Linked DNA regions of Homo sapiens. The protein of the gene in region 3 purifies or fractionates together with the protein of the main gene of each other region. This does not show direct contact. Each region holds a gene or a part of one and is shown on either strand. Other genes may lie near its edges. The genes, in order: MUC7, BPIFA2 and ZNF491.

The links.
Region 1: the proteins of ZNF491 (region 3) and MUC7 purify together in Homo sapiens (affinity purification with mass spectrometry; 2 studies listed by BioGRID and IntAct, with this or other methods). This does not show direct contact.
Region 2: the proteins of ZNF491 (region 3) and BPIFA2 purify together in Homo sapiens (affinity purification with mass spectrometry; 2 studies listed by BioGRID and IntAct, with this or other methods). This does not show direct contact.

What each region holds. Positions count from the first base shown.
Region 1 is NC_000004.12:70,475,111-70,482,232, forward strand, and holds part of MUC7 (mucin-7 precursor), read left to right. Parts: intron 1-5,688; coding exon 5,689-6,768; 3' UTR 6,769-7,122. UniProt on the Homo sapiens protein: May function in a protective capacity by promoting the clearance of bacteria in the oral cavity and aiding in mastication, speech, and swallowing. Binds P.aeruginosa pili.
Region 2 is NC_000020.11:33,178,061-33,181,936, forward strand, and holds the end of BPIFA2 (BPI fold-containing family A member 2 precursor), read left to right. Parts: intron 1-86; coding exon 87-168; intron 169-1,543; coding exon 1,544-1,607; intron 1,608-2,459; coding exon 2,460-2,500; 3' UTR 2,501-2,537; intron 2,538-3,163; 3' UTR 3,164-3,352; downstream 3,353-3,876. UniProt on the Homo sapiens protein: Has strong antibacterial activity against P.aeruginosa.
Region 3 is NC_000019.10:11,793,654-11,801,618, forward strand, and holds the start of ZNF491 (zinc finger protein 491), read left to right. Parts: upstream 1-4,869; 5' UTR 4,870-5,074; intron 5,075-7,965. UniProt on the Homo sapiens protein: May be involved in transcriptional regulation.

The DNA.
Region 1 (7,122 bases), on a different chromosome or scaffold from region 3:
TCTATTAAAAATACAAAAATTAGCTGGGTGTGGTGGTGGGCACCTGTAATCCCAGCTACTCAGGAGGCTGAGACAGGAGAATTGCTCGAACCTGGGAGGCAGAGTTTGCAGTGAGCCGAGATTGCATCACTGCACTACAGCCTGGGTGACAGAGCAAGATTTTGTCTCAAAAGAAAAAAAAAGAAAGAAATGAACAAAAACGTTCTAGTTTGGGGCATGTTACATTTGAAATGGCTATTAGACTTCCACATCAAGATATCAAGAAAACAGTGGATATATGTTGTCTGGAGTTCAGAAAGAAATCTAGGGGTAAAGTCTATATTTAAAACATACTTGAAGCCATGAAACCTTACAACATTTTCACCTAGGGAGAAAATGTAGGAAGTTTAGATATGGATAGAGAAAATGGAGGACCCACAAGAGGGGACAGGAAAGGATGGCTTCCAAAACCAAGAGAAGACTACAAAGTGGACCTTCTATCTTTAAGAAATTTAGGGTGTACTGGCAAAGGAAGATTAAAATTAATAATGATATAATGTGATTACAAGGTGATACATGCTGTAATAATAACCATATTTTTCTCTCATGCTATGTACCTGCAAGTATTTATTAAATTTTATTTTGACAAAATTTCAAATAAGAATCAAGAAGTGGAATGTACTTTTTTATTGAATGAGGATGGATAGCCTCAGAATATTACGCCAGTAGAGTAGAGAGAGAGAGGGCAGAAGAACTGATGAAGTGGACGGAATTTACTCTTGGATATTCTCATATTTCTCACTTACCTTATAATATCCCCCAGAAAACAATCAGGCTTTTTCCCGGACCCTAATGCTGATTTCTGTGACTAGAAGAGTGTTCAAGCTGGGCTCAGAAGATGTGGGCTTAAACTCATCTCTAATGTTTACCATCCAGATGAATCTTGAGCAATTTAGAATCTATTTATAGGGCCCCAATTTCCCTATGTGTAAAATAATAACAACACTATATGCTTCACAGGGCTGCTGAAGGGTAAATGAGAATTTATAAATTATAAACTATAGTGTAGATATAAAAATTATGACAAGATTATTGTAATCTCAATTTACATACTAGTTGATAAGGCTTTAAGTTCTGAATATGCACAGTGATGTTAACTTTTTAATAAGTAAAGTTTTAATAAGGAATCCCTGGCTACCAACACCTCTATATTGAAAGAAATAATTTTCCAATCAACACAAGTCATGTTATTGTGAAATGATGAATCTGGGTTGTTCTTTTGAAGTGGCCTTTCATCATAACTCCCTCAAATCCAGACACCTAAAGAATCCTTTCTTCCAAGTGCTTAGAATAAATAAAACTCTTCAAGCTGCCCAAATCTCAAAAAAGTGCCTGGTGAGAGAAAGAGTTTCCAAAGAACTTGAATATGAGAAGGTAGCACAGAAATACCTTGACCTGATCCTTAGAAAATACAGGAATGTGAGGTCAGGAGTTCGAGACCAGCCTGGCCAACATGGTGAAACATCGTCTCTACTAAAAATACAAAAATTAGCTGGGCGTGGTGGCCCACACCTGTAATTGCAGCTACTTGGGAGGCTGATGGAGGAGAATCACTTGAACTTGGGAGGCAGAGGTTGCAGTGAGCCAAGATCGTGCCACTGCACTTCAGCCTGGGTGACAGAGCGAGACTCCGTCTCAAAAAAAATAAAAAGAAAAGAAAATACAGGAATGTACCGGAGATTAGCATTAACCCACAGCCAGAAAAGGTCAGTCCTGGAGCTCTAGCAACAACCTGCTTTTGTGGAGTGATTTCAGGGAGCAGATAGTCTGGCTTCTCTCTTCCAGATGTCCCAAAGAAAGACTTGAAGGGATGTATTCTGGAGTCAGATGAAGAGCTCTGTCAACTATAGCATTATTTAGCATAATGCTTTCATTCTCTTTAAAAAAGGATCACAGATTTTCAAATGGTCATAAAAATAAGCTGGTAGCAAATGAAGAAATGAATTGTGCTTTCTAATTTCAATTAAATGTAATCTTGGGCCGGGTGCCGTGGCTCACACCTGTAATTCCAGCACTTTCAGAGGCCGCGGCGGGAAGATCACCTGAGGTCAGGAGTTCAAGACCAGCCTGGCCAACATGGTGAAACCCCCATCTCTACTAAGAATACAAAAATTAGCCAGGCATGCAGTACACACCTGTAATTCCAGCTTCTAGGGAGGCTGAGGCAGGAGAATCCCTTGAACCCAGGAGACGTAGGTTGCAGTGAGCTGAGATCATGCCACTGCACTCCAACTGGGTGACAGAGTGAGACTCTGTCTCAAAATACAAAAGTAAAAAATGTAATCTTGGCCTTTCTGTCTTCTAATTCTCTCCCTTTCTGACTAATTTTCTCCTCCTCTTCCTTCCTCAGAGAATTTGGCATTCCTCTAGTTATTTTAGGAGTCTTCTGCTTTCTCATACCCTCCTTTCTTGCTGCAAGTGCCATGTGTCTCTCCTTCTCCTTCCCTTGACTCCAGCCTACTCTATCCTTGTTCCTCATGTCTTCTCCCTCTTCTCTGCTCTCAAAAGTACAGTTTGCAAATGGAGAAACATTCTCCTAAAAGTTACTTAGTCTGAGACTCAGTTTTCCCATCCATATAATGAAGATAATAACCGTACCCACCTTATGATATTACTAAGAAATTAAATAAATTTGTATTTGTAAACCACTCAGAATAGGGCCTAACATAAAGTGTTACATGAAGACTTTTTTAATAAAAATAAATAATGAATGTGAACAGGCAGGCAGGGTTGCTATCTTTAATACACCCTCCCTGGCATATCTATATTTATTATAAGGACCTCCATACTTCAGTCACCTAAACTCAAACTTTAGAGGCATGCATTTTCAACTCCTTCCTCTCTCAGACTTCTCTAAATCCAACTCTAGTCTACAATTTCTGTTATAACCACCTGTAACTGCCAATCATAATAACTAATCAATATATTAAGTAAATCAAACAAACTGGTCATTTGATACATGTTCCAGGCCAAGCTAACATTAAAATTAATAGGATTTTAATCAATTTGCCTTCATATAAAAATGTGGTAGGTATTATTTTGGTCACCTAAAGTAAAATAGCTGAAACTATTTTACATATGAATAAACACTTTTAAATGTTAATACTTTATTCAATAACAAATTAGTTATTGTTATCATTTCCATGCATTTACTCATTCAATTAATAGCTAATGAGTACCTGCCATATGCCAGGCATAGTTTTAGGTATTGGACTTACAGAGGTGAATCAAAGAGGGGCCTTCGTGAGGCTCATGTGATTAAGGGAATGAACCACATAACTATTTCAAAGCAAATAAAATTAGACTTTGGATCTGGAATTTAATTTAATCCAAATCATTTTATAAATGAATAAGCCGACATCCAGGCACATTAAGTGACTTGACCAAAGTCACTCAGCTATTCAGTGGCAGACACAGGACAGAGCCAAACCTCCACTGCTGGTCTGTTGCAGCATGTTTCATACATGTTCCTATAAGATCTGGACATTCTTTGCAACATCCTCAGAGACCATCTGGAAAGGGAAAGACCGAGATCATGGAATGTGAGGCCCTCAATCCTGCTTCAGTCAGAGCAGGTCCTTAATTATGTGGATTGCATATTCAATCTCCAGGGAAAGATCTGTTTGAACAATATGACCTGTTCTATTTTATATGAGAAAACAACTACCCCTGTAATGGAAAGGATCTCCTCAGAGATTCCTGGAGTCAGTGTTACCGATTCTGAAAACCTATGCCCTTTTAAGAGAGATTTATGGAAAAATACCAAAGTCATGTGAGTATCAGAAGCCATTATGTTAGCTATTGGTTGTTCTCAGTTGTGAATTAAAATTTCCTGGACAATTTAATTTTCTAAACAAATAATACTTTCTTGTATTGATGGATGTTGTGGAGAATGTCCAGATCTTAGAGGAACATATTTGAAACACACTGCAACAGACCAGCAGTGGAGGTTTTAGTCTGTCCTATGTCTGGCATTGAATAATTGAATGACTTTGGGCAAGTCACTTAATATGCCTGGATCTCAGTTTATTCATTTATGAAATGATTCGGATTAAATTAAATTCCAGATCCAAAATCTAATTCTATGACCTCTTTGCTTTGAAATAGTTATGTGGTTCATTCCCTCAATCACATGAGCCTCACGATGGTCCCTGTTTCATTCACCTCTGAAAGCCCAGTACCTAGAAGCTATTTTTGAGGTTGGATATATTAGTCTCTGAGGAAGTTATCTTAGTTAAACAACTCAGCTAGTCTCTCAGAAGTTGTCACTTCATCTGCACTAAACTTTGTGTCCAAAGAAAGCTTTATAACTTGCGACTGGAATGATTTACCCATTTGGTCATCTAAAAAGGGCTTCTGTGAACATCATTAGGAAGAAAACGTAACCTATCCTTGTTTGGGATGTTCTCATTTATCCTGTTATATTTCTTTTCTCCAATTTAATATAACTGATCACTAAAAAATGTAGTATGAGATTGAATACAGGGAAGAGGGATATAAAAGGCATGAAGTATGTTTACAGATAAGAAACTGAAACAGTGATGGTACTCTAACTCAAATAATGTCAGCAATGGCTAAAGGAAATAAAAATATCTTGCAAAATGATGACCCACATGGCATAGAAGTTATTTTCAAATTTTGAAAGACTTCTGGATCTTCTGTAAATCTGCCAAAACAAAATTAGGACCAAAGGATGGAAATCTTCATGAAGAAAATTCTACTCAGTTAAGAATGAAAATCCCAAAAAACAAACCTACATTCAGTGTCAAGAACTCTCTACCAGGCGGCCTTAGGAATTACAGTAGTGAGTTCCTAATCAGAAGAGGTTAGATGCATAGACTAGAAAGCCTTTCAGCAGGTGTATTGATAAAAGATCAAGTATCAGATGTACAGTTGGACTGGATCAGTGTTCTTTTCAGATGTAAACACCTTTCAGAAATCATGAAAACCATTGGTGCTCTATCCAGACAAAATGCATAAACATGCAAATTTTCTCTAAAAATCAGATGACTCATGAACCCCCGAATCATGAATTCTATAATTCTAATTTTTTAAACAATAAAGTTAAAAGGTAATGACCAAAGTTGTTTCTCCAATTTATAAAGGCTAAAAACTGTTTCCTGAAATATGGAGAACATGAAGCCGGGGTGGGATATTTTGTTTGTTGGGGCTTTGTTGTTGTTTGGCTGTTTCGTATTTTGATGATGGTAGATATGAGGGGTGTAATCTAGAAAGGGCTCCTGGATCTCAGTTGAATGTCTTTGACTAAAGTTTTGTGAACAGGCTGAGCAAGCAGGAAGCTTTTGTGATGGGACCTCAGGCAGTAACTTGACCATTTTCCACCAGAGGAAGAAGAGAGGAACTGTAAGCACAAAAGTTCGTATCCAGCTAAGCATTCAAGCTAGAACCCACAGGAATATATTCATCCCAGCTATCTAGAGAGTAGACATTTGACAAAAGAAAACTCTCTAGTAGCAATTCTTTCTTGAAACTTGGTGAAATTAGGAAGATAATCACTTGACTCAATAATGTACTCTGGTTTCTAATCCCAGCATTCCACAAATACCGCTCATCTCATGGTCAGCAGTGATCACCTGATTGATAAATGGATACTTTTTTCATTTCTTACATTTTCTTTCTTTTCTGCAGTTCAGTGAAGGTCGAGAAAGGGATCATGAACTACGTCACAGAAGGCATCATCACCAATCACCCAAATCTCACTTTGAATTACCACATTATCCTGGACTGCTAGCTCACCAGAAGCCGTTCATTAGAAAGTCCTATAAATGTCTGCACAAACGCTGTAGGCCTAAGCTTCCACCTTCACCTAATAACCCCCCCAAATTCCCAAATCCTCACCAGCCACCTAAACATCCAGATAAAAATAGCAGTGTGGTCAACCCTACCTTAGTGGCTACAACCCAAATTCCATCTGTGACTTTCCCATCAGCTTCCACCAAAATTACTACCCTTCCAAATGTGACTTTTCTTCCCCAGAATGCCACCACCATATCTTCAAGAGAAAATGTTAACACAAGCTCTTCTGTAGCTACATTAGCACCAGTGAATTCCCCAGCTCCACAAGACACCACAGCTGCCCCACCCACACCTTCTGCAACTACACCAGCTCCACCATCTTCCTCAGCTCCACCAGAGACCACAGCTGCCCCACCCACACCTTCTGCAACTACACAAGCTCCACCATCTTCCTCAGCTCCACCAGAGACCACAGCTGCCCCACCCACACCTCCTGCAACTACACCAGCTCCACCATCTTCCTCAGCTCCACCAGAGACCACAGCTGCCCCACCCACACCTTCTGCAACTACACCAGCTCCACTATCTTCCTCAGCTCCACCAGAGACCACAGCTGTCCCACCCACACCTTCTGCAACTACCCTAGACCCATCATCCGCCTCAGCTCCACCAGAGACCACAGCTGCCCCACCCACACCTTCTGCAACTACACCAGCTCCACCGTCTTCCCCAGCTCCACAAGAGACCACAGCTGCCCCAATTACCACACCTAATTCTTCCCCAACTACTCTTGCACCTGACACTTCTGAAACTTCAGCTGCACCCACACACCAGACTACTACTTCGGTCACTACTCAAACTACTACTACTAAACAACCAACTTCAGCTCCTGGCCAAAATAAAATTTCTCGATTTCTTTTATATATGAAGAATCTACTAAACAGAATTATTGACGACATGGTGGAGCAATAGTATATTGTATGTTGTAAAGTGTTCTGTCATTTACAAGATGTGATTCATGAGTGCAGAACTACCACCTTTCTTTTAGCACCAATCCCAACATGAAATTATATTACTCAGATTTAAAGCACTATCATTAATCTTTCAATCTAATTATTCACCACCACAAGACCTATTAACAAGACAAAATGCCTCTATCCCACAAGCCAGATGCAGGTCTGGGGTTCAAAATAACTCTTTGGATCCTACAGAGATAGCCTACTGAGGGCAAAGAAAGTCCTTAGATAAAGAGAGAATATTGTATGGGCCATCAACCATTTACTTTTCCCTGAATGTTAGAAACTACAAAACCACTACCTTGTACCC
Region 2 (3,876 bases), on a different chromosome or scaffold from region 3:
ATTTCCCGCACCGCCCCCAACTTTTTGGCAGTTCTCCCATCTCTTGCCCACTTGACCAGACTTTAATAGTTCCCTGTGTTTTCCAGACACAGCCAAATCATCAACAAGTTCGTGAATAGCGTGATCAACACGCTGAAAAGCACTGTATCCTCCCTGCTGCAGAAGGAGGTGAGTCTCCCACTCCTTGGAGCCCAGATCCAGGCCTGGTGGGGGCAGGTGGGGGAATTTGCAGGCCTGGCTGTATCCTCTGAGCACTTTTCCTTCGGAGGTGAAAGCTTCTCCTTAGGAGGTCAGCTGGAGCTTCCTCCTCTACTAATCAGCCTGGTGGGTAGCAGGGTAGAGCAGAGGCCTGACATTAGCTGAAATTGCCAGGTCCCAAACTTGAGCCTCTCACCATATCCACGCACTACCAATATGCTTTTGTAGCTAACATCTTCAACACAATTTTACTTAAATATGTTTCTTTAGAAGCATTTATTTTTAAAAATAAAACTTTATATCCCTATCATAAATAGAAAATTAATATCACATATCATACAATCAATGGACTTATAAAATAGTTTTAATTTTTTTTCCATCTGTGCATCATCCAAAACCATAGGTACCATGTGCAGGATTACTAGGCCCAAAGTTGCAGAGATTCTAAATCAGTCATTCTGGAAGCAGACCCAGGAATGTGGGTTTATAAAAGAAAAATCCTCCGGATGGCTCTGTGACCCACTGAACCGGAGTTTAGTTATATTCCAAAAGCGATCCTCCACCAGCTTCAGCCTCAGCTGGGTGCTTGATAGGAATGCGGAATCTCAGGCCACACCCCAGACCTGCTGAATTGCAATCTGCGGGGAACTGTGTACACACAGGAGCAAGAGATACTCCGCTCTACAACCTCAGGGCAAATGCCTCAGGGCACCATTTGACCCTTTAAAATTCCAGGGTTCCAAAGTTCAACATGGGAATGTTAACAATCTAGAATGTAGATTTTTGAGGTCCTAGAATTCTAGTGTTCTAAGGTGTTAGGATTCTAACACCCTAGGGTTTCCAGATTTAAGACTGCTGGGATCCCATTGTTCTAAAATCCTAAGGTTCAGGCCAGGCGCGGTGGCTTATGCCTGTAATCCCAGCTCTTTTGAAGGTCAAGGTGGGCAGATCACTTGAGGTCAGGAGTTCAAGACCAGCCTGGCTAACATGGTGAAACCCTGTCTCTACTGAAAATACAAAAATTAGCCAGGCATGGTGGCATGTGCCTGTGAACCCAGTTTCTTGAGAGGCTGAGGCAGGAGAATCACTTGAATCTGGGAGGCGGAGGTTGCAGTGAGCAGAAATCGTACCACTGTACTCCAGCCTGGGCAAGACAGTGAGATTCTGTCTCAGAAAAAAAAAAAAAAATACAATAAAACAAAATAAAATCCTAAGGTTCAAAGATTCTAAGATCCCTAGAAATGAGCTCATCTGTGGGTGGCAAGCAATTTGTTCTCAGCTGAGAAGAATGATCTGTTCTTCCTCCTACTCCTGACCCTCCTCTTCCTCCTTTCTCCGCTGTCAGATATGTCCACTGATCCGCATCTTCATCCACTCCCTGGATGTGAATGTCATTCAGCAGGTCGTCGGTAAGTCAATGGGGAAGTGGGGACCTTCTGAGGCAGGCATGGAGCTCTGTGCCCACCCCATAAGCAGTTCTGGTCAGGGGACCCTGGAGAAGCAGAAGGACCCACTGTCCTAAGCAAATTGGGAGCCATGGCTTCCCCTCCACAGGCACCCGGGGGCTCCCTTTGGCTTTTGGGTCTACAGGCATGGCTGGGGTTGCTGGGGAGAAATGGAGTAAGTAAAGCTGTCAAGACCCTGGAGGTGACCCTTCTATGAAAATAGCCACAAGTCAGCCAGGCGCAGTGGCTCACACTTGTAATCCTAGCACTTTGCGAGGCTGAGGTGGGCAGACCACTTGAGTTCAGGAGTTTGAGACCAGCCTGGGTGACACGGTGAAACCCCATCTCTACTAAAAAATACAAAATTAGCCAGGCGTGGTGGCATCCACCTGGAGTCCCAGCTACTCGGGAGGCTGAGGCGGGAGGATTGCTTGAGCCTAGGAGGCGGACATCGCAGGTAGCCGACATCATGCCACTGCACTCCGGCCTGGGTGACAGAGTGAGACCGCAATCTCAAAAAAAGAAAAAAAAAAAGAAGAAGAAGAAAGGAAATAGCCACAAGTCCAGTCCCTTAGGCAGTCACTTTGTGCTCTGTACACACTATCTCACTGGATCCTTGCAACAACCCTGTGGGGAAGGTACTGTCATTGTACCCACTTTACAGATGAACAAACTGAAGCTCAGAGAGGTGGAGCAACATCCCTGGGGTCCCACAACTGTCAGGTTACCGGCTGGAGAGCGGCATCTTTTGGAGTCTGGTCTCTATTCAATTCCAGTGGCAGAGACTAAGGCCTGCTATTGATTTTGTTTCTTCAGATAATCCTCAGCACAAAACCCAGCTGCAAACCCTCATCTGAAGAGGACGAATGAGGAGGACCACTGTGGTGCATGCTGGTGAGGAGCCAGTCTCTGTGCCCCAATGCACAGGGGCCTATGGTGAAGTAAAAGTCAAGCGTGGCTTCCCTTATTTTTGTGTTAGAAGACTGTGCCTTCATCTCAGTCATAGATTGAGCCCTGGCCCCCATCCCAGGCTAGGCCCTGATTCTGGTCACACTCTGAACACTGAGCCTTAATCACTGAACTCTGATTCTGGCCCCAGACTGAGCCTGGATCCTAGTCACAGACTGAGCTTTGATGCCAGTTATTGACTGAGCCTTAGTCTTGGTCACAGAATGAGCCCCAACCTTGGTCTCAAATGGATATCCATGATTCTGATCACATATTGGGCCCTGAACCTGGCTCCAGTAGTGGCCTCAATCAATCTTTTCACATCTACCATTGTTCTGAAGGAGGGTGAGGGGAATGAAGATGAGTCAGTGCCAGGTGCTAATGAAAGACCCCAAACCACAGGTGCCAGTTTCTTCTTCCCAGGACTTAAACCGCATGGGGTATTGTGGGAAAGAGCTGGGACACTGGAGCCAGGTCAACTTGGGTCCCATCAAGTGCCCAGTGGATGACTGACAGCTGGGTGTAAGGGCAGCCTAGCAGCAAATGTCCTAACCCCCTTGGTCTCATTCCAGATTGGTTCCCAGTGGCTTGCCCCACCCCCTTATAGCATCTCCCTCCAGGAAGCTGCTGCCACCACCTAACCAGCGTGAAAGCCTGAGTCCCACCAGAAGGACCTTCCCAGATACCCCTTCTCCTCACAGTCAGAACAGCAGCCTCTACACATGTTGTCCTGCCCCTGGCAATAAAGGCCCATTTCTGCACCCTTCTGTGTGGCTTGTTGCATTCCCTCCATTTGGGATTTGTTGGTGGGAACTGGGGAGGGAGGTTGGGGGCTGCAACTAGGGTGGGAGAGACCTGGATCCAGAGCTAGAAGGCTCAGTGGGAATATCCAGCCACATCTCCTGGTTCTATAAAGGGGGCCACTGAGACAGAGAGGGCAACAAACTAGCCCAAGTCACACAGCCAATCTGTGGCAATAGCAGACCCCTGATCTATCCATTCATGCATTCAACAGGTATGTAGTGAACACCTACTCTGTGCCAGACAGGCAATGGGAACTGGAAAGTCACATTCTGGGGACAGCCCCACCCAGCACTTTCCTCCATTCCTCTCCAGGGGCCCTGAGGATTCTTGGAGAATCAGGGGACACCTAGCCTGACTGGAGTCAGGAGTATGAGACAGAGTGATGCAGGGTCAGAGGCCTGTGGCCCCATCTCCACCTGCCCTGTTAGCCCTGCTGCCCTCTAGGGGTCCCACTGGAGCAGAGATGTCTTTTCCAGGTGGT
Region 3 (7,965 bases):
AGTTTGCAATTAATTTCTCCCATTCTTCGGGTTATTTGTTCACTTTATTGATTATTTATTTTGCTGTGCAGAAGCTTTTCCATTTACTTAAGTCACATTTGTCTATTTTGTTATTGTTGCCTGTGCTTTTGAGGTCTTAATCCGGCATTTTTTGCCTAGACCAATGTCCAGAAGAGAATTCCTTAGATTTCCTTCTAGTATTTTTATAGTTTTGGGATTTACATTTAAGTACATTTTGAATTGATTTTTGTATATGGAGAGAGATCAGGGTCCAGCTTCATTCTTCTCCGTATGGCAATCCAGTGTTCCCAGCACTGTTTATTGAAAAGGGTGTCCTTACCCCAATGTATGTTCTTGTTGACTTTGTAAAAAACCAGTTGGATGTAAATATGTGGATTTTGTTCTAGGTTCTCTATTCTGTTTCATTTATTTCTGTGTATATTTTTATACCAGTAACATGCTGATTTGATTGCAATAGCCTTGTAGTATAACTTGAAGTTAGGTAATGTGTTGCTGTCAGAGGCATTCGAACCAGAGCGACTCCATTCTGAGGGCTAGGAAAGTGAGGCTGGGAATTGCTGGGCTTCATTCCCAGAAAGTTAGGCATACCTCGCTTCTAGGTGTTTACAGTTAAAGGAACAAATTAATAATGTTTACCAAGACCCAGACTTGGTAGTGTCCAGATATCCCAATATCTGGAGAACAAAGGCATTTCTAATTTTGCTTTAAAGATAATAATATCAATTCTTGCAAAATATAGTAATTAAGAAAATTAATCCTTTATCATGGACCCTTATAGCAGAGCACATCTGCCCATATATACAAGCATCATTGTACCTAGGGTGGATGCGTTCCTCCTCTTACTTACAGAAACATCCAACTCTTTCTGGGGAGTAGCTGTTCTTTCACCACTTTACTTTCTTAATAAACTTGCTTTTACTTTGCACTGCAGACTTGCCTTGAACTCTTTCTTGCAGGAAATTCGAAAACCCTCTCTTGGGGTCTGGATTGGGACCCCTGTCCTGTAACATTGCCTCCAACTTTGTTCTTTTTGTTTAGGATTGCTTTGGTTATTCGGGCACTTTTTTGGTTCTATATGAATTTTAGGATTGTTTTTCCTAATTATGTGAAAACTAACATTGGTATTTTGATAAGAATTGCATTGACTCTGTAGATTGCTTTGGGAAGTATAGTCATTTTAATGATATTAATTCTTTCTGAATAATTAATGAAATTAATTCTTCTGATATTAGTTCTTTCCATAAGCATGAAATGTTTTTTCCATTTGTTTGTGTCATCTGTAATTCTTTAATCAGTGTTTTATAGATTTTTTCTTTTTGTAGAGGCCTTTCACCTCCTTGGTGCAATATATTCCCATGTGGGGTGGGGTGTTATTTGGTAGCTCTCGTAAGTGGTATTGCTTTCTCGATTTGGTTCTCAGCTAGATTGTTGTTGCTGTATAGAAACACTGCTGACTTTTGTACACTGACTTTGTATCCTGAAACTCCTGAATTAATTTAACTAATCTAAGAGATTTTTGGTGGAGTCTTAAGCGTTTCTAGATGTAAGATTATATATCACTGAACAGGAATAATTTGACTTCCTCTTTTCCAATTTGCATGTCTTTTATTTCTTTCTCTTGCCTGATTGCTCTGGCCAAGACTTCCTATACTAGGGTTGAATAAGAGTGGTGAAAGTAGGCATCCTTAATCTTGTTCTAGTTTTTATCATTCAACTATTTCCCCATTCAGTATGATGTTGGCTGTGTGTTTATCATGTGTGGCTTTTATTATTTTGAGATATGTTCATTCTGTACCTAGTTTTTTGAGCTTTTATCATGAAGGATGCTGAATTTTATCAAGTGTGTTTTCTAAATCTATTGAGATGATCATATGGTTTTTATTCTTCATTCTGTTTTTGTGATGTGTTACATATATTAACTTGTGTGTGTTGGACCATTTTTGCATTCCTGGTATAAAACCTACTTTATCATGCTGTATTATCTTTTTAATGTGCGGTTGGATTCAGTTTGCTAGTGTTTTGTTGGGGATTTTCACATCCGTGTTCATCGGGGATATTGGTCTGTAGTTTTGTTGTTGTGTCCTTGTCTGTTTTTGGTATTAGGATGTTACTGGCCTCATAGAATGAGTTAGGGAGATTTCCCTTGTCTGTGATTTTTAGGGACAGTTTCAGGATTATTAGTATAGTTCTTTTTGTATGTTTGGTATAATTTTTTTAATGTTGATTTTTAAATTTTTATTTTTTTACTTAGAGATGGGATCTTGTTATGTTGGCCAGGGTGGTCTCAAACTCCTGGCCTCAAGCAATCCTCCTGTCTCAGGCTCCACAGTGCTATGATTACAGGCATGAGCCACCACATCTGGCCTATTTGGTACAATTTTGGTATAAATCTGTCTGGCCCAGAGCTTTCATTTTTGGGAATTTTTTTATTGCTGATTCAATATTGCTACTTATTATTGGTCTATTCAGGATATCTGTTTCTTCTTGGTTCAATCCTGGGAGGTTATACGTTTCAAAAAAACCTATAGGTTTTCTAGGTTGTGAGCATATAGTTGTTCATAGTAGTCTCTGATGGTATTTCTGTGGTATTGGTGTAATGTCTTCTTTTTCAATTCTGGTTTTGTTCATTTGAATCTTCTTTTTTTTCTTGGTTAGTCTAGCCAGCAGTTTATTACTTTTGTTGATATTTTCAAAGAACCAACTTTTTGTTTCGTTTATCATTTGTGTTGTTTTTTAGTCTTGATTTTGTTTAATTCTGCTCTGATCTTTGTTATTTCTTTTCTGCCAACTTTGGATTTGTTTTGTTCTTGTTTTCCTAGTTCCATGGGGTACCATGTTAGGTTGTTAATTTGTTACTTTTTTGACAGAGGCATATAATTCTATAAACTTCCCTCTTAGCATGACTTTTCCTATATCCCAGAGGTTTTGATATGTTGTGTTGCCATTTTTGTTCATTTCAAACAAAATTTTTATTTTCTGTTTTTATTTCTTCTTTGACTCAGAGATCATTCAGGAGCACATTGTTTAATTTCCATGTATTTATACAGTTTTCAAAGTTCCTCTTGGTATTGATTTTTAGTTTTATTCAGCAGTCTGAGAAGATGCTTGAAATGATTTTGACTTTAAAATTTGTCGAGACTAGTTTTGTGGCCTAACATATGGTCTACCTTGGAGAATGTTTCACGTACTGATGAGAAGAATGTATATTCTGCAGTTGTTGGGTTCTGTAAACGTCTGTTAGCTCCATTTGGTCCAAAGTCCAACTTAAGTCCAATTTTTTTGTTGATTGTCTGTCTTGATGATATATCTACTACTGTGTGTGAGGTGCTGAAGTCCCATACTATTATTGTATTGCTATCTATATCTTTCTTTAGGTCTAGAAATATTTGCTTTATTAATTTGGCCTCTCCAATGTTGGATGCATATATATTTAGTATTACTATATTATCTTGCTGAATTGATTCTGTTATCAGTATCTCATGATCTTCTTTGTCTTTTTGTACTGTTTTTTATTTAAAGTCTATTTTATCTGATACAACTATCACAACTCTTGCTGAAGCACAGTGGCGAGATCATAGGTCACTGAAGCTTCAAACTCCTGGGCTCAAGATCTTCCCACCTCAGCCTCCCGAGTAGCTGGGACTACAGGTTCAGGACACCACGCACTGCTAATTTTTAAATTTTTAGTACAGACGAGGTGTGGCTCCGTTTTCCAGGATGATGAACTCCTGGGTTCAAGCAGTCCTCCCGCTTCAGCCTCCAAAAGGGTTGGGATTATAGGCGTGAGCCCCCGCACCCTGCCTGCAAGTCTTTTAATTCACTTCAATTATCTTAGAATTTTCCTTCCCCACTTTATACATACGTACAGTGGAACTGAGGGTGTTTGTCTCAGGTAACCGATCAATGAAGTGAATAACCTGTAGGGGGCAGCAGAGCCTAAGGCCAGTGACACCCTGCTGAGGCCAGTCTGGAGCCGGCAAAGGGAGGGAAAGGGAGCTCCCCTGGGTGTTTCCCGGGCAGCCTGCCCTCTACTGCAGGTGGCCTCCAGCTGCTCAGAACAGCTGCGGAAGGAATGTGGATCCTGAGAAGCTACAGAGCCCTGGAAAGCAGGAGACTCACGTGCAGGTGCACTTTGTGTAGGGGGGTTGGGGGGAGGTTCTGTCCTTACTGGGGCTGTACCTAGAGCCTAGGGACGTTTTGCGGGGGCAGTGTTTGGTTTTTACGTGCAAAGGGTCCCGGCGACAGACTGTAATTTGTACATACAAAGATAATCTGTGAAGATCAGGCTCAGTAAGATTTGTCTGACATGTCACCTGGAGAAAGGGTTTGTGAAGGTAATAGTTTACTTAGGTTAGAAGCTTAAACTGACCCCAGGTGAGAACTTCTGCTGGTGAAAATGAAGTCTAGGGGGAGGAAGCGGTTCCATATTCAGGGGTGGGACGGGGGGAGTGTGAGGAAGTCTCATCCCCAATTCCCGCCCTGTAGAGGACACCTGCCTCTCCCTCCTGGTGCAGTCTTGCCTGGCCTGGCCTGGCCTGGATTTCCTTCCTGCTATGAGGCAAAGGAATGACTCCATTGAACACCGAGTCTGGAATTCCCAGCACACATTTCTGAAAGATCGAGGAAGCTAACAGTGCCCCTTCTAACAATAAGTAGCAAGTTTGGCTGAAATGCAGATAGCCAACGACCAGGGCGCAGGGAGTGAGCTTAGCCTTAGAAAGGCTGTAGCTAGGATTAATCAGCCGGGCTCTGCAGGGCTCCGTTACCCAGGGCTTACCCTGTCACTCAGGGCTGAGGGGCGGAGCCTGGAACCCCATCCAATCAGGGGCCCTGGGACGGGGCCCTGCCAACTGTCAATCCGGGGAAGCAGAAGGCCGCACTCAGAGTCTCTGCACTCCTTTGTTGCTGGGGTCCGTTGCGTTCTGCATCCAGTCCTTGCTGCTCCGAGAGGCCCCAGGTGCCTCCGCCACGGCTCCTGTGACGCTGTCACCTGCGCTGTGACCTGCTCCGGAGTCATAAAGAGGACGCCGGGACACCAAGAAGCAGGGAAATGGTAAAGTGCCCGGCCTAGCGTCCAGATACGTGGAAGAGGGGCTGGGTGGAACCAACAGGATCCTGCTGTGGCGGGACCCAGGCCTCCGCTCGGGCGACCCCGGCGATTGGGACCCGCGTCCCCCATGGCGTGGCTTGGCCCTCGGTCCGCTCGGCCGCCAGGTGGGGCTGGGCCCGCAGCTGGGACCCCGGGCGTCCTGTCCCGTCCCTACGCGGCGACTGCGGCCCCGGCCCCGGAGTCCTCTCTGGGCAGCTCCGCGCCCGCAGCCCGGCGTCTTCCCAGATTGTGCGGGGGCCACGGGAGGGTCATGGGGGGTCGGATGTGTCCCGCCTTTCTTCTGCTAAAAATTAAACTGAGGCTCTGTTAACAGTTAAAGAGTTTGTTGGAGCAACAGCGATTCCGAGTGAGAAACACCCGGTCATGGCTTGTGATTGAAGAAAAGGCTTTTATAAGTTGCATGAGGAGGCAAACAGGATTAAATACTTGATTAGTTACAGTGATGCTGTCGCCGTATGTGGACTTGTCAACCTGAAATAAAAGAATCAGATTCCAGTTTTTTAAAGTTTACTCAAGCAAGAAGCTGGGAATGGCCCATTTGGGAAAACACAGGATCCACGGAAATGGGCTCAGTGTTTCAAATTTAAAAGTTTAAGTTCTTGCTTATATAGGCAAGAAATTTAACAGGATTACAACGTTTTTTATACAAGGCTAGTTTGTGAGGCACAACAATTTAATCAGAGTTTGGCCCGCCCCCCTCCCCCCGCCCCCATAGAGCTTTTTTTTTTTTTTCTTTACATTTGGGTTTCATTTCCTTTCCAATTTAAAAGAGTATATTTAACATTCCAGCGTAAGGCAAGGTGATGCCAGCGTGGACAACATGGCGAGACCCCGTCTGTACAAAATATTTTAAAAAATTAGTCGGGTATGGCCGGGCGCGGTGGCTCACGTCTACAATCCCAGCACTTTGGGAGGCCGAGGCGGGCGGATGACGAGGTCAGGAATTCGAGACCATCCTGGCCAACATGGTGAAACCCCGACTCTACCAAAAATACAAAAATTAGCTGGGCGTGGTGGCACGTGCCTGTAATCCGGCTACTCGGGAGGCTGAGGCAAGACAATCGCTTGAACGCAGGAGGCGGAGGTTGCGTGAGCCGAGATGGTGCCACTGCACTCCAGCCTGGCGACAGAGCGAGACTCTGTTAAAAAAAAAAAAAATTAGTCAGGTATGATGGCCGCTTCTGTAGTTAGTCTGGAGGCTGAGGCAGGAGAATTGCTTGAGCCCAGGAGGTGAAGGCTGCATCAACGACAGTATTGAATTTACAGCTAATAGGCAAGGTGAGGGAGAGGATGGAAGTTGGTTTAGTGTCAAGAATTAGGGAAGAGATTGTCAAACGTAGGGAAAAGGGACTTGATTGGATATCAGGTTTGGGGGAATTTTCTCTAAACTCCCTTAGAAGGGTTTTTGCTACCACAGGGCTCTGCAGGAAAAGGCCAAAGTCTACTCAAGAAGAGGGGGGCTCTGAGGAGCCTGACTAGTTTGATCAAAGAGGGAGTTTTTGGGACCCCTCTCCCAGCCTAGTTCTTCCCAGGTATGACAGTAAATCCCTAAATTTCTGGTTTTCTCCTCACATTCAAAAACACCAACTTCCCCTCGCCAATTGACATCCTTATCAATTATGTGTTTCCCATGCTACATTTGAAACAGCTGCCATATTTTATCATTTTTCCACAGACAAATGAATAGCACTATTTAAAAATGTTATCAACACCTCTGAAAATAAGGAAAACTTTTTTTTTTTTTTTTTTTTTGAGACAGTCTCACTGTGTCTGTTGCCCAGGCTGGAGTGCAATGGTGCTATCTTGGCTCACTGCAACCTCGGCCTCCTGGGTTCAAGCGATTCCCCTGCCTCAGCCTCCCAAGTAGCTGGGATTACAGGCATGTGCCGACATGCCCGGCAGATTTTTGTATTTTTAGTAGAGACACGGGAAAGAAAACATTTTTTAAAAATTTTAGTCCAGGCACAGTGACTCACTCCTGTAATCCCAGCACTTTCAGAGGCCCAGGTGGGAGGATTGCTTGAGCCTAGGAGTTCAAGACCAGAGTGGGCAGGGCAACATAGCAAGATCTCATCTCTACTGAAAACAACCAAACAAAATAGCTGGGCATGGTGTCATATTCCTGTAGTCTCAGCTACTATACTCGGGAGACTAAGGCGGGAGGATCGCTTGAGCCCCGAAGATCCAAGGCTGCAGTGAGCCTTGAGGGCACCACTGCACTCCAGCCTGGGAGACAGGGTGAAAATTTTCCTCAAAAAAACAAAAACTTTAGGGCTTGGCATGCTGGCTTACACCTGTAATCCCAGCACTTTGGCAGGCCGAGGTGGGAGGATCACTTGAGTCCAGAAGTTTAAGACCAGCTCAGCAACATAGAGAGACCCCGTCTCTATTAAATAAATAAATAAAATTTTAAAAAGAAAAAAATTATATTTTGTTTATGAATATTTTTTATGAGAGGAAACTATTCAGTAACTACCCAAAATGACATTGGGTAAAACTCCATGGCTGATTCTTGACATTGATCATCTTTTCATGTGTTTGTTGGCCATTTGTGTATGTCTGGGAGAAATGTCATTAAAATCCATTGCTTGGCTGGATGTGGTGGCTCATGCCTATAATCTCAGCACTTTGGGAGGCTGAGGCGGGTGGATCATGAGGTCAGGAGTTCAAGACCAGCCTGGCCAACATAGTGAAACCCTGTCTTTACTAAAAATACAAAAATTAGCTGGGCATGGTGGTGCATGCCTATAGTCCCAGCTACTCAGGAGGCTGAGGCAGGAGAATTGCTTGAACCTGGGAGGCGGAGGTTGCAGTGAACCAAGATCGCGCCATTG